Linked DNA regions of Homo sapiens: region 1 is linked to region 2. Evidence: fine-mapped expression QTL. Tissue or cell type: whole blood. Region 2 holds a variant in brackets; the other region holds the start of a gene. All regions are shown on one strand. Distances are from middle to middle.

Region 1 (8,104 bases), 190 kb after region 2:
ATGAACTAATAGTTTTCTTTCTTCTAGGGGAGGGGGCGGGGTCTGGCACTGTTGCCCAGGCTGAAGTACACTGGTGCGATCACGGCTCACTGCAGCCTAGACCTCCCGGGCTCAAGGATCCTCCCACCTCAGCCTCCTGAGTAGCTGTGTCTATCAGCAGTGCCACCACTCCCAGCTAATTTTTAAATTTTTTGTAGAGATGGGGTTTCACCATGTTGCCCAGGCTGGTCTCTAACTCCTAGCTCAAGTGATCTGCCCACCTTAACCTCCCAAAGTGCTGGGATTACCGCTGTAAGCCATTATGCTGGGCAAGAGTTTTCAAACTACGGTAAAATTCAAGTTACAGATACCTTTGGGAAATGCCTCATTCTAAGTATTTGAAGCTTCCAGATAGCTAAGATTAAAAATTTTTACATACTAACTTGTTTCTAAGTGTATGCTTTTACATTTAAACAAACTAAAAACATAAGCTTTATAAAAAAATTTCAGCCATTTCCAAATTCTCTTCCAAACTTGTTTAGAAACATACATGACAGAGCTTTGGTCGGATTGTGCAAACTGTTGTGTGTTCTGTTTTTAAAATATTACTTAACTTGTACACTTCCACACATTGGCATGGCACATCATTGCCATTTCCAATACGTTCCTGTGCTTCACCAATTTCCATAGCTGTCAGAGGGAGAGCAGCCCAGGTGACAGGAAATGAAGTTGTCTGGCTCCGAGTCCTTACTAGGAGGACTTCTGGGATCCAGAATCTTTGCATGGGGCAGATGACATATTCTTAGAGGCCATTCATTTTTTCCACTGTAGCTGCTAGTGCCAGTTTCCACTCCACTGCCTGAGGGCAGGTTGATCTTGTAAGCCATCACCGATGGATTTGTGGTCACTGCCTGGAACCCTGTGCCAAAGAGGACTGGGAGGTCCCATTCAGGAGGGAATCCTCTGACTTATTACTGGCATCTGAGCATCTCCCAGCATGGCTGTTCCTACTTGTAATAAGGTGATGTCAAATGACTCCAGGGCAGTGCTCCGGTTCCCATGAACACATCTGGTCACTCTGGGAGCTTTTGAGTCAGTGAGCTCTCTCCTCACATCCCGATACACTGTTGTTTGCAAAAATATATTTTTATAGGCAAGGTATTTGTGTTTTGGATTTGCACCCTGATGCAGGCATTAATTTGTTTAAAAGGATAATTTAACATTTTCAGGAAGCTGAACATCTTTAAATTCTCTTTTGATTATTTCTAGTTTTATTGCATTATGACCCAGAAATGTGTACAATTTTTGTTCTTGTATACTCACTAAGGATTCTTCTTGTTTTCAGAGTAGGACCAAAGGTATTTCTATTTGTTTGCAAGTCTGTTGGCTCAGTTTCTAAAGAGTTCATTTTGTTACCATGTTCTTTTAAGTATATACATACAGGTTAGTTACGTTTCCAGTTTCCTGTGCTTTTTATTTTTTTTTTAAACAAGCTTTTCTGGCCCTTCATTCTCTCAGACTTTTCCTTCCATGCCTTATGCTGTAGATAAAGTCTATGATCTAACGTCTGTCAGTTAAGATTGTTTTCAGCTCTGGAGACCAGAAAATCTGACCCACATAGCAAGAACAAGCAAGGGCAGGAGATGAGGCTGAAGAGGCAGGCACCAGGTTGTCTGAGCTTTTATTCTACTGCAATGAGTAGATAGTGGCAGGGTTTACACAGGGGTGGGGGTATGCCTATATCATGTTTTAACATTTTCAAGAGATCACTCTGGATGCTTGAGTGGAGGCTGGACTGTAGCAGGGCAAGACAAGATGCAGGGAGGTTGGAGGATTCTTGGCAGTAGCCCAGTAGGAGAGGAAGGTGACTGAAACTGGTTGTGGAAATGGAGATGGTGAATCAGGATGCTGGTTGCACTCAAGAGCCACAGGACTTGCTGTGTGGTTGCATGGGGGTTGGGGGAGAAGGGAAAAGAGTCAGGGATGACTCTTGGTGCTCCCCTCAGGGAAGAGGCCCCAAGCCTAGTGGTTATCAACAGATGGATGGTATTTAAAGCTATGAGACTGTGTGGGATCATTCTGAGAGGATCACTAGAGATCTGGTGGAGGAGGAGCAGGAGGATGAGGATAAAGGTGAGAGGGAATCCAGGAGGGAAGGTCCCTAAAATCCAGAAGAAAGGGTGGAACTCCTCAATTGTATCGTCTGTGTCAAATGCAGCTAAATGACTGAGATAAAAGTCGTTTCAGCAAAGTACCTTGGAGGAAAGCTGGAAAGGAGTGGGTGCAAGAGAGGACATGAGGTGAGGAAGTTGCATGGAGCAGAGAAACAGAATGGTAAATGGAGAGAAACCTGGGGTTAAAAAAGGTCTATTTGTTTAATGCACAGCATTAAGGAATGCTTGTGTGTGGACACTAGCAAAAAATCAGTACAGAGAACCCCAGAATTCTGGGGTCATAGCCCGAAAGGACTCCTCAGCTCCAAATTTACTTGAAGTTACAGCTTCCATCTTTAAATTAAATGGGATTTTTTTTTTTTTTGCCATCTATTTCATCATACAGGATGTGACACAGAATATATCTGAAAGTATAACTTTCCTGGAAGAACACATCTTAGTTTTTAATATCTAAACTGTATAGCAGCTATTTATCTCACAAAACATTTTTCAGGCTGAGTGCGGTTGGTGACTCACGCCTGTGATTCCAGCACTTTGGGAGGCCAAGGCAGGAAAATTGCTTGAGTCTAGAAGTTCGAGGCCAGCCTGGGCAATGTGGGGAGATGTAGTTTCTACAAAAAATTTAGAAATTAACAGGCATGGTGGCACAAACCTGTGGTCTCAGCTACTGGGGAGGCTGAAGCAGGTGGATCGCTGGAACCCCTTTCGTGGTGCAGTTTGGGCAAAAGAGCAAGAACCTGTCTCAAATTTTTTGGCTGATGGTTGTAGACATAATGTTTGAGCTTTCAAAAATTACAACATTTTAAACTAAATAGTTTGCTGGAAAAAACCACATGTTCCTTCCAGAAACAACTGGTAGACCATCAGGATCATGACAGTCACTTCAAAAAGCTTTGGTGTGTTGACAAAGGGGAGGTTCACGTGTGATGTTGCTGGTCGCACAGCTACTGCATCCAAGGCAAATGCATGTTAACAACCATATCAAATGTGGGTGACCAAGTGGCAACATTTAAGCATTTTACATCCTAACTTATGTGCAACTTAAACCTACTGCCACACTGTGAGTTAGGAAATTGGTAGGTTTTTTTCTATTGACTTGTTGTGCCCTATAATTTTTCCTATTTAAAATAATGGGAAACAAGTTTTCAGTTTTTTTCTCAGAAAAAGTCTGACATTTCAGGCACAGATATGTCTGACAGTTATTACCAGCAGAAGAGTTTCTAGCCTTTTCATCGTAAAATTTTAATTACTTACCTTGGAAATTACTTAACTTCGTTCCTTCCAAATCTGGTAGTAAAATGGGTGCTCCAGAAAGCTGTGGCACGGATATTCTGCTGCTTTGCTCGTCTCTGCACAGACCTGGGGCTTGAGGAGCCTGCAGCCACGAAGTACAGGACGTCATCAGAATGGAAAAGCGATCCAGATGGTCCCGCAGGCGCAGTGCTGGGGCGTAAAGTGCAGCCTGTGCACGGCGGGTGGGAGGCGCGCGGGCTCGCCGGGGCTCGGGACTGTGTTCTTGCAGCCGAGAGGCCCACACAGGACAAGGAGGCCTGACCCAGGCTGTTGGAGCCCGCGAAGAGGGGGTGAAACTCCAAGGGGCGTAAGGGTGATCACACGTGCGGCCAAGCTTCCCGTCTGCATGGCGAGGGGCTGGGCCTTTCCGTCGTGATTTTTCTCCCATTATGCCGGGCGCGTAGCGGGCCCTGGGGCGGCGGGACCGGTGCGGGCGTTCAGTCAGCCCGGGGTCCTGGAGGCCGGCGGGGGGATTCGCAGCAGCCCGAGGGACGGATGGATGGCAGAAAGGAGTCTCTACTTCCAGGTTCCCAGTGATCGCTATGTTCCTTACAAGCAGTAAACTCACGACTTCAGACACCCGCCACGGAGCTCCGCGCGCAGTCCTCAAACAGCCAGCCACGCCGGCCGGGCGCACAGCGCATGCCCCGGGGTCGGGGCGGGGCGGAGGAGACGGGGCGGGGCGGAGGGGACGGGGCGGGGCGGAGGGGACGAGGCGGAGCCGGGCGGGGTTGAGGGGACGGGGCGGGGCTTGGCGGGGGCGGAGCCGCCCAGCGCTGAATCCAAATCGTATCTAAGCTATTTTCTAGCTCTGACATCGTATACATCACTGCATACGTGAATAGCATGCCAAATACTGTATAAACCAATACTGGTTTTTTTCTTCTCGGGAGGTACTATATAAATAAAGCACGTACACGGTATCTAATATCAGAACATTCAAATCCCATATTGAAAAGATTATAAATTGACCATAATCCTATAATTCTGTTTAGCAACAGTGCGTTCCTTCTCAGTCTTCACTTTTAAAATATCTAAGAGGCTCGATGTCTTGAGGCTTTTTCTTTTTAAACCCAACATCCTTTTTCACATTTATTAGTTTAGTACTTTGGTTTTACTCAATAAAAAGGTGGGGTTAAAAAAATCTGAATTATTCTGCAATGTTTCAGGCAACAGAGGCTGAAAACAACACTGTTAAGGCGGGGGGACAATTCTTATACTCTGTGAGTCTTCTTGTTTAATTTTCATTAAATTTCCAGAATAATAAGCGTAGGATAGCTAACGTTTGTCTTTGCGTCGTAGATTAGTTAACCTTTACTGAATTCACAATATGGCATCAGAGATTTAATCTGCATTTCCTAATTCTTATAAATTAAAGCTGAAGTTTAAGCTTCATTCGCACGTCACAAATACCACTTGCCCTGAATAAATAATGTTTTTAGAAGTGAGCATTCCTGATCTCCCTGTTTGTTAAGAATTGTCTTCTTTTTTCAGCTGCTACTCTGCTAAGACAAGAGTTAGCCCCTGAGCTATGTTATCAGTTCAAGGCTTTGCAGATAGCGCTGTATCGTGGGGGAAAAATGAACATGGTTTTCAAAAAGGAGGAGAACATTTCTATAACGTTGAGACTTTTAGTAATCAGGGCTATTGATGTCAGATGGCTGTTGGGACAAATGACATCATAAAAAATACAAAATTTAAAATTATGTTTGTTTATGTTTGTTTGTTTTCAGATTTCTTAGTAGTAAAGGGGCTGTGTTTTCACTCAGGCTTATATGATGATGACATTTCTCAGACCAGCAGCTATCTGCTAGCATTCTGTCCTGGACTTGGGGTGCACCTGTGACAGTAGCTGGGCTTGTCATCCAGTGAATAGCTCATAGTTGACTCCTCTCCATCAGTATAAGCATGGGTGTGGGTGACTGCATGGTAGAGGGGGCCGGGGTAGCCAGGGACCAGAGGTTAGTGAACCATTGGGTAAGATGTATAACTGTTACTCAGGCTCATAATTTTTCAACTTTTTCAGATAGTAATAACAAGAAAGTCCATCCTTACCAGTGTCAGTCTCTGTTTTAAGTGTTGTTCATATATTACCTCATTTAATTATCACACCAACCCTATGAGACTCAGAATGTAAATAGGCTACTGAGGTCACATTGCTGGTGGATCTTAATCTCAGGCCAGCTTGGCTCCTAAGTGTGTGTTCTCACTCTATTGCCTCTAGAACAGGAAGGAATATATGGATACTGTAAATTGTTAAAGAACAAGTTGAAAGAATTTTATTTCCGGCAACATGGGCTGACAAGAACCAGAAAACAACAAAAACTTCTGGAATACATATCAAGAACCATTTTAAAAAATGTATCAATGAGCTGCAAAATAATTAAGAGTTCGCAAAGGCAAAAAAATTAAAATTAAAAAGTGAAAGTAGAAACCCAAAGAAGTAATTAGATGCCATTTTTCACCCTTAAGATAGTTGCCAAGTGTCATACTGAAACTCTCTTTTCATAGTCTGGGAAGAGGATGGGGCAGCAGAATAGCAGACAAAGTTTAGATCCTGTCCAAGGTAGGACGGTTAGCAGAAGACATCAAAAGTAGGACACCAGCCGGGCGCGGTGGCTCAAGCCTGTAATCGCAGCACTTTGGGAGGCTGAGGCGGGCGGATCACGAATTCAGGAGATCGAGACTACCCTGGCTAACACGGTGAAACCCCATCTCTACTAAAAATACAACAATTAGCCGGGCGTAGTGGCGGGCGCCTGTAGTCCCAGCTACTCGGGAGGCTGAGGCAGGAGAATGGCGTGAACCCGGGAGGTGGAGGTTGCAGTGAGCCGAGATTGCGCCACTGCACTCCAGCCTGGGCGACAGAGCCAGACTCTGTCTCAAAAAAAAAAAAAAAAAAAAAAAAAAAAAAAGTAGGACACCAAAAAGATAGGTTTAGTGTAGGAGGGAACTATGAATCAACCTGTCTGCCTCCCCTGTCTCCTGCCCCCTCAATCCCTGCAGCCCCTGGAGCAGCAGACAAGATTATCCATCCTGAGGGAAAACATCCCTCCTGAGAGTGAGGATACATTAATATATAACCATGGGCAGCCCTTCCACTGGTGGCTTCACACACAAACTGTATAATCTAAAAAGTCTCAAGCTGCAAATTTAAAGTGACATCAGGTTTTTAATGCCTTCCAGGTGCCTGGCAAAAGCAAAATGGAAGACAGCTTCATGGAATGTAAGTTTTTAATCAAAAATCACAAACATTTATAATGGGCAAGAGCCAGCAGAAACAATGTACAGAGGAGAAAACCTACAGAGACTTAAGATATTAGAGTCACCAAACATCACATAAAGTGTGTCTTACATGTAAAGAAACAAGGGGATTAAAGAGCATGAGTATGAAAATAACCAAGTAGATTGGGAAAAATTACCAAATAGAAATCTAGATTTGAAAAATACCATAATTGAAATGGAAAGTTTAATGGATTAGTGTCACAGCCAACTAGATACTACCAAAAAGAGAATAATGGATATGAAGAAATAAAGACATTTTTAGACTTGTAAAGACTTAAGACTTTCTTACCTGGAGACCTGCACCACAAGAAAAATTAAAGGATGTCTTTTAGGCCTTAAGAAGGATACCATATTGAAATCTAGATCTGCACAAAGGAATGAAGAACACTGGAAATAGTAACAACATGGACAAATATATGATTTGTTATTATTACTTAAGCCTCTTTAAAATATAATTGTTTAAACAAAAATAATAAAGTACTATGGAATTTACAACATGTAAAATAAAATGGATGACAGTCATAGCTTAAAGACTAGGAGGGAAGAAGTATACTGATGTAAGTTTCTTATACTAAAATGATATATTATCACTTGAAGGTAGACTGTGATCAGTTGAAGACATGCACTATAAACACTAAAGCAACCACTAAAATAACAAGCCAAAGAATTGTAGCTGTTCAGGATAACACAAACAATCTCATCAAAAAGTGGACTAAGGACATGAATAGACAATTCTCAAAAGAAGATATACTAATGGCCAACAAACATATGAAAAAAATGCTCAACTTCACTAATTATCAGAGAAATGCAAATCAAAACCACAACACGATACCACCTTAATCCTGCAAGAATGACCATAATAAAAGAATCAAAAAATTAAAATAGATGTTGGTGTGGATGTGGTGAGAAGGGAACACTTTTACACTGTTGGTGGGAATGTAAACTAATACAACCACTATGGAAAACAGTGTGGCGATTCCTTAAAGAACTAAAAGTAGATCTACCACTTGATCCAGCAATCCCACTTCTGGTTATCTACCCAGAGGAAAATAAATCATTACATGAAAAAGATACTTGCACATGCATGTTTATAGCAGCATCATTCACAATTGCAAAAATAAGGAACCAGCCCAAATGCTCATCGATCAACGAGTGAATAAAGAAAATGTGGCATATATGTGTATATGTATGTATGTGTGTATATGTATGTATGTGTGTATATATATGTGTGTGTGTGTGTGTATATATATATACACACACACACGCATACATACCATGGAATACTACTTAGCCATAAAAAGGAACGAAATAATGGCATTTGCAACAACCTGGATGGAATTGGAGACCATTATCCCAAGTGAAGTAGCTCGGAA
Region 2 (8,104 bases):
CCAGCGCTCTGTTTCTCTGGGCTCTCTGTGTGAGTGGCCATGCTCTGTCCTGCCTCCAAGCCTTGTGCCTGCTGACCACCCCCACTCAGAATGGAACACTCTTTTTCCATCTCTGCACCAGTTTTCACGTCTCCTGTCAAACATCCCTCTTTGGAGAGGCCCTCACTGACCTCCCTGGCTAAGTAGCCGCTCACGCCTCATTCGCCACCCTGCTACCCTGACCTTCATACCTTGACCTCTGCCTGAAACTGCCTCCTCTGAAGTTTACGCATCTCCATTTTTGTTGTCTGTCTCCTGCACAAGAAGATCAGCTGCACAAGAACAGGGGCTTTTGTCTCTTTTGTGCCCTGTTATGTCTCCAATGCCCAGATCGGGGACTGGCCCAGAGCAGGTGTTCAGCAAAGGAATGAATGAATGAATGAATGAATGAATGGAAGTTGGCTCCCATCTTTCCAGCCCTGCCTCCAACACCTCCAGCGAGACTGTGGTTCCTCTTCTCACAGTGGATTCCCACCCCCAAGCCGAGCCCAGGGCCCCTCGCGGGCATTTGGTGAAGTTATGGCCGTGTCCTGTTGCCCTTGCGTTAATGCTGCAGTGTCTGGCCTGGTTTCCCAGTTCTTTCCCTTCCCCAGCCGGCCCAGCTGTCAATTCCCACCACCCTCAACCCCCATCACCAATGCCGGTGCTTGCGCCCACCACAGACAGGTCCCACTTCCAGGCCCTGTGCCTACCTGAGGCCACTGTGAGGCATGTGGTGAGACTGACCTTGCCGGCAGGATTTGAGGGGAGCCAAGAAGCCAGCTTGGGAGGCATGACAACCGCAGTCATGGATGTTGCCACGAGGACCTGCATGTCCTTCACTATTATCCCTCTTGACCCCTGGTTGGGTGATAACTGACCTTATTTTTCAGATGACAAAATTGAGGCTCAGGAAAGTTAAGATTGTGCTCCAAGGTCACAGAGCAGGGAAGGGACGAGCTGCAATGGCTGCTGCACTTCCCTTATGGTAATAGCCTTATTATTCCTGTTGCTGCTGCTGGGTCCTGGGCTCCATCTCCAGGAGCCTTTCCCCTCGGCCCCTCCCACCCCTCCAGAGCCTCAGGCCACTCTTGCTGAATAAGGGTCTAGCCATTTACTGACCTGGGGCTGGTCCTCATCTGGAAAGCGGGATGGTGAGAGGCGGTAATGAGGGACCTGACACGTGGACGGGATCTGGGAAACGGCCGTAACAGGCCGTCCTTTCCTTTTCTCAGGGCTCCTGCCTGTGTGGAGAGATGATGGCTCCCCACCACTGCCACCTCCCCCACACCCCTGCCCACCCACGTCTCCCGCTCCCCGGGCTCACAGTCTGGGTAGAGGCTGTTTCAAACAGAAGACCAAGCATCTGCGGGAATCCAGACCAGACCCTAAGCCAGCTCCAGAGGGCTTCCTGGGGGAGAAGAGTTTTGACAAGAGTATCCAAGGCAGAAGAAACAGCCTGGGCAAAAGCCTGGAGGTGGGGAAATTGAGACCTCCTGGAGGCTGAGGAAGGCTGGAGGGAGGGAGGAGAACAAAGGGCCTTAACCAGCCATCAGGTGAGGGCAGCTAGGCCTTCCCCAGGGCCACATTATGACTTTCAAGCACCCAGGGCACTTTGGCCTAAATGAGTCCATTTATCCATAAAAAATAAAAACACTAAATACAAAAAATTAGCCGGGCGTGGTGGCGGGCACCTGTAGTCCCAGCTACTCGGGAGGCTGAGGCAGGAGAATGGTGTGAACCCAGGGGGCGGAGCTTGCAGTGAGCTGAGATTGCGCCACTGCACTCCAGCCTGGGCGGCAGAGTGAGACTCCATCTCAAACAAAACACAACAAAACAAAACAAAACAAAAACACTAAAAATATATTCTACGTCTTCACTGGAATAGAGAGAAATATAATTCGTTAGTCATCCACTCACCCATTCATCCCCTGTCCATCTTTCCGTTAGTCATCCACTCACCCATTCATGCCCTGCCCATCTATCTATCCCTTTGACTCCATTCACTCACCTCGCCAACCACCCACCCATCCATCCATCCATCCATCTATTCAGCTACGTTCCATTTATTCATTTACCCACTCACCCACTTATCCATCCATCCATCCCTCCATTCATCCATCCATCCATCCATTCATCCATTCATCCATCCATCCATTCATCCATCCATTCATCCATTCATCCAGCCACTTACCCACCCATGCATCCACCCATTCATTCATCCACCCACCCTTTCACCAATTCACCAATCCATCCATTCACCCACTCATTTATTCATCCATCAATTTATCCATCTACCCACCCACCCATCCATTCACCCATTCATCTATCTGTCCACTCACTCACACATCCATCCATCTTACCCACCCACCCATCCACTTATCCATTCATCTATCTATCCATTCATTCATCCACCCACCATTCATCTACCCATCCACTCAACCATGCACCTTCTCACCAATCCCCCACCCATCCATTCATCCATCAATTCATCCATCTATCTATACACCCACCCATCCACTCATCCATCCATCCATCTTTACATCCCTCTTAGCACTCCTGCTCACCCCATTCAATTGTCTGTTTCCCTGTAAATATACTCACCCGTCTGCCCACTCATCCATCTACTCATATTCCCTCTGTTTCCATTCTCCATTATTTACTATATCAGCCTCTGCAGTCATCTCTTTTCTCTGGAGATTTCTCTAGCATCTGATCCCGACCTTCCCATCATAAGCCCTCTCTTCACTTCCCATTGCTCACAGATACAAATCCAAACTTCAGACTTAGCTGGCTTTCAAGGCCCTGAAACTATTTTGTCTCTCCTCTCACTGCTCCCACCACGGATCCTGGAAGTTGTGTGGGCCCTGGGCACTGTGCCTACTGTGCCCTCCCTGGCTTTCCCTGCCAGCTGCGGCCTGTGCCTATGGGCTTGAGTCCAGAGAGGAGAAGTGAACCATGAACTTGGGAACAAGAGGGGAAAAGGTGAACAGGACCAGATTAATGCACCAGCCTCAGCTCCCCGCCTGTAATGAGGGGATGGAGTGCCGATGTCCTCCCCCACATTCTAGGCTGGTTTCTGGGCTCACTGAGCTGCCTTGAGGGCCAAGGTGGTGGGGATAATGGAGGGGGCTGATCACTCTTCCCTCTCTCCTGCCACTTACCCCTTAACAGCCTAGCCGATCTGGAACAGAAGGGAAGGGCCTGCTGTGGGAGGGGCAGCCCCATTAGCACTGTTTCTGGCCCCTAGGGAGCCAGGGGTCACCAGAGCCCAGCTGCAGGGCCATTAGCAGCCCATTAGCCCTGCCCCTCCTTCCCAGTCCCCACTCTGGCTCCATTCAGGACCTGCCCTTCACGGCAGAGCTTCTGCCCCTTCACCAACCCCTGCAGGCCTCAGAGGCCCCCTCCGAGGTCAACGTGTCAAGTTCCGGTCAGCCTGGGCAGGGCTGCAGCTGACCCTTGCAGAGCTGGGGAGGACAAAGGAAAGGGAACCCCTGCAGGTGTAAGTGGCTGGACCCTCTGAAAGGGCTTCATCCATCTCTGAGGCAGGTGGTAATGGCTAGTGGAGAGGTGTGTAAGCCATGGGGCCAGCGAGTCAGGTGCCTCTGTCGTCTTTGCCAAGAAGGGGTTGCATTGCTGATTTCTGACTCCCCTAGTGTATGTGAGTTGCTTTTTA[C/T]GGAGGAGCTGTGCCCCCTCAGTCAATCAATCAACACACTTTTGCTTGCTGAGCTAACAAAGTATTGGACCTCGAGAGGGAGAGCCAAGACCTTAGGCTCTCCTGGTTACATAATCCATTCATTCACTAGCAGATATTCAGTGAGTGCTCACTGTATGCCAGGCCCTGGAGCACAGCAGCAAGAGACACTCCAGTAGAGGAGAGGACAGTAAACACAGAAAACAATCAGTGGGACGATTTCTGGAAGGAAAGGGCTGTGCAGGAGATGAAGCAGGCATCATGAGACAGGCATGGGGTGGCTGTTGTAGTCTGAGGGTTTGGGGAGGCCTCTTACAGGAGACCTTTGAGCTGAGCCTGGGTGGTGAGAAGGAGCCTACCAAGTGGAGGGCAAGGACTGAAGGTCACAGGCAGTGGGACAGCAAGTGCAAGGGTCCCCGAGATGGGGACAGAAGCTAGCAAGCCCTGGAGGCTGGGGGAGGGGGAGGGAGGTGGGAGGTGGCAGAGGGAGGTCATAGATTCTCACTGCTATGCCAAGCCTTGAGGGCTCAGGTCTGATTCCAGTCTCCCAGAACTTCCTTGGCTGTGCATGGGGCTCACAGGGGCAGCAGGGAGGCCTGCAGGGGGTGGCCACTGCCTGAGTCCTGGTGAGCAACCATGGGGGCTCCGACCTGGTGGAGGTAGCAAAGGAGGGACTTGCATCTGCTGAGGTCTGAGCAGCCAGGAGTCAGAATCTTGTGAACCTCAGAATCAGACTCTCAGCATTAGAATTAGAATTAGGAGCTCTTAGCCCTGACATTTGAGGCTGGCGGGAAGCTCAGTGGGGACCGCACAATCTGGGCTGAGCCACACCCTAAAGCCAGCTATCTCACCCGGAAAACATTCCAGGCTGTGAAGGGCTGGATCCAGCCTGACTCGTGCTAAGTGCTTCACACATGTACTATTTGTTCCTCATGAGGACCTGATGAGACAGATGCCATTCTTCTCCCCATTTCCTAGATGAAGTCACTTGTTCCAGGTCACTAAGGGAGGGATAGGGTCCTCCTTCCCCAGGGGCGCCTGACCTCTGGGTGGGGTCAGCGTGGGAAGGGGGAAGGCGTGGCAGAAAGAGAGTGTGCCTGGAACAGTATTTTTAGCGCTGCCTGCCCTGCGTGCGAGGGGAGGGGAATTAGAGATGGCTTTCAGGGCAGGAAGAGCATGAAGTGATGTCTTAATTGGGATCCTCAAGGAGAAAAACAGTGTTACAAGCGCTCAATTATTTTATAATGAGCCTGCGGTGTGCAGGGAGAGCCACAGACATTTTCGAAGCTGAAGTGTGCGCCTGCATGTGTGTGTGTATGTGTGTGCATATGTGTGTGTGTGCATGTGTGCACGTGCATGTGCCCACAGGTGTATGGTGCTGAAGCGGGACTGTGGCAGGGTGGGACGGGCTCTTTCTCCTGATTTTGAGCAGTGGGCCCCTCACTTGTGCTGCCTTCTGCCCCTCAAGCCTCTTGTGGTGCCCCCGCCCACCAAGTCGCTCCCACAATGAGCCACCAGTGAGAGAACTTCAGGTTTTGCTGGGCAGGAGGATGCTGGAGCCTCAACAGGCCCTCCAGGAAGGGGAGACCTTGGGGAATTTCCACTAAGCTTCAAGACCTTTCTCTTTGCTGAGTAGAAAGGGGACTGGTTGTGAGCATCATGCTGAGCACAGGGAGAGGGCTGTGCTGGGAAGGAAGGACCCACACTCAGCTCCATCGGGGCCAGGACCCAGCTGACCACCCTGCCACAGTTCCCCACAGCCCTCCTGATGACGCCCCAGCTCACCGGGGGAACTTCTGTGACCTGCCTGCTGCCCCATGATGACCCTGCCCCATGCTCATCCAGCCAGATTCCTGCCTCCAGGCCTTTGCCTATGCTTTGCCACCACCTTGTCTCTGTTCAGGGCTGAAAAGCCTTCTGTCTCTTCCTTCGTGGCCTGGTTCAACTGCTTCTTCCTCTTTAGCAAAGCCCTTGTGTTTAACCTCACCCCAGCAGGGAGTCCCCAGCACGGTCCCTGCGTAAATCAGCTCCTGCCAGGCCACTTGGTCAGCGCATCTCGTTAACGGAGGCTGGGCTAAACTTGAGGAATTCTGAAATGAAGGTTTCCACAGCAGTGGGGTAGAGATCAGACTCTTTCCCCTAGGTGCTTTGGGGAGAGCTCAGCCCCCCAACATAGTGACCCTGAGCTGAGGCAAAGCAGAACAGGACATTAGTGTTTCTATTTCACATTGAAAAGGTTAAATTTCAAACTAACTTTTGAAAACATGATTTTTGTCTTCACTGCTACAGATAGGAATGAAACAGTGGCTGGGAAATGGGAAGTGGACAGAGAAGCATTGCTGAAAGGGGCTTGGGAACTGGCCCCAGGGTCCTCCACTTCCCCATCTGTGAAATGGAGACTCTAATGATGATTGTCTTCCTGGTCCCCAGGCCAAGATGAGGCCTCCAGGGAGGGAGAAGCTCTCATTACTGAGGCTCAGCAGTTCCTGAGAGTGGCTGTAATGGCATTGCGGGGGTGGCAGGGGCAGCAGCTCAGTGTCTCTAGACAGGGTTGGGGGCCCCTTGGAGTCCTTCCCACTGCCCTCCCCAGCCTTAGGGACCAGGTATCTAGATGCAGCTGCTGGAGTGGATGGAAGGACTTCCTGACCTCCAGCAGGAGCGGAGGTCTCCAGCGCTGTCACCCGAGGCCCGTAGAGGCTGGGGGCTGCAGCTTGAGGCTGTCGGGGCCTCAGAGCTCTGGGTGGGGAGCATTATACAATTTAACAAGCTGGAGAGTGGGGCTCCCAGAGGCCTGGGAAGAGGATAAGGAGGGAGCCCCCGGCCTGTGACCTCAGTCACTCACTAGCCATTCTTTTCTTTGCTCACTGATTCTCTTGTTCTTATCATCTGTTCCTCCCCCACCTTCATCTCAGCAAATGTTTCCCATTGCCTTTCATAGCCAAGCCCCTGCTGAGTGCTGGGGATGCAGACACAGTCTCTGGCCTTAGGCACCTCCAGTTGTTGGGAGAGGCAGACATGTTCCAGGAACCATCCAAAAGTGCAAGTGCAGCACCAGCTACCCTGAGGGCTTGCAGGGGAGCCAAGGGGGCTCCAGAGGCCTCTCCTCTGCCTTTTGACACCCAAATCGGCTCAGGTCACCCTTCTGTCAAACTTTCCCATGGATCCACTCTCTCCAGAAACAAAAGCAATGGCTCCCCAAGGCCTTGAGGCCCCCCGAACCCCACCCTAGCTCCCACCCCCCTGGCCCCCGCTCCCTCTGTTCAGCCACATAGGCTTTCCCTGGAGCTCCCCACACCAGTCCCATCTCAGGGCCTTCGCACATGCTGTTTCCTCTACCTGGTGCTGTTCCCCCATGCTCCTCCCTACCTCCTTCAGGTCTTTCTCAGTGAAACAACTGGTTCAACTTAACAGTGCAACCCCTCCCCCTGTTTTTCTCCATAACACATTATGCTCTAATTCCTCACTCAGCTTGTTTGTTCTCTCTCTCATGAACTAGAACTCCACCTGCACAAGGGTGGGGATTCTGTTTTGTTCACTGTCTTGTCCCCAGTAGTGGGCACAGTGCCTGGCATCCAGTGAGTGCCTAACAAATATCACTTCAGTGATTGACTTATTGATTAATTACCTGCAGGGCAGGCTGCCTACTCCAAGGTTGCTAGCCTGGAGTGGAGAGTAAGGGCTGAGGGGTGGATGGCTGCCCTACTCCCTCCTCTTTCTTCTTCTACCATGTGAGCCTTGAGGCCTCTTCTGGGTCCAGTGTAGAAGGTGAATATCCAGCTAAGTTTGACATTTAGTTTGACTGTGTCAGCAGTGGGGGGCAGAGAGGGGAGCTGTACTAGAAGGGTTGGGATCAGATGCTAGAAAAGTCTCTGGAAGTGAGAGATGAGTGAGAAAGCCCATGCTGTAAATGACGAAGAAAGGAAACTTATAGGCAGATGGATGAGCAGACAGATGGATGAGTGGAGAGGTACATGAGTAGATAGATGAATAAAGAGATGGATGGATGGATGAGTGGATAAATGGATAAGTGGGTGATGGAGAAATGGGTGGATGGATCAATAGGTGAATGAATGGATGAATGGATGGATGGATGATGGATGAATGAATAAATGAGTGGATGGATGAATGGGTGAATAGATGAATGAGTGGATGGATAGATTAGTGGACAGATAAAGGAGAAGATGGATGGATGAGTGGACAAATGCATGAAAAGATGCATGGATGGATGGATGATGGATGGATAAATGGATGGATGGATGGATGGATGAATGGATGTATGTATGAGTGAATGGATGGATGAAAGGTGAGAGGACAGATGAATCAGTGGATGGATGAATGGATGGATAGATGGATGAGTGAACAGATGGTGAGATGAATGGATGAATAGATAGA

What was found. PIP is the estimated chance that this variant, and not a neighbour inherited with it, causes the effect.
Region 1: it holds the start of LINC02693, and the variant in region 2 is fine-mapped to the expression of LINC02693 in whole blood (TOPMed, PIP 0.98).

The regions. Positions count from the first base shown.
Region 1 is chr17:21,547,589-21,555,692 of GRCh38, forward strand. It overlaps LINC02693 (long intergenic non-protein coding RNA 2693), which reads right to left and starts at 4,090. Exons shown (of 2, transcript NR_160801.1): 1 at 3,408-4,090. RefSeq lists a silencer at 3,984-4,153.
Region 2 is chr17:21,354,554-21,362,657 of GRCh38, forward strand. No RefSeq gene overlaps it. Among named protein-coding and RNA genes, the nearest start is that of KCNJ12, 18 kb to the right of the region's middle. RefSeq lists enhancers at 2,707-3,277, 3,278-3,848, 4,912-5,622. The variant C/T (reference allele first, on the strand shown) is at 3,695.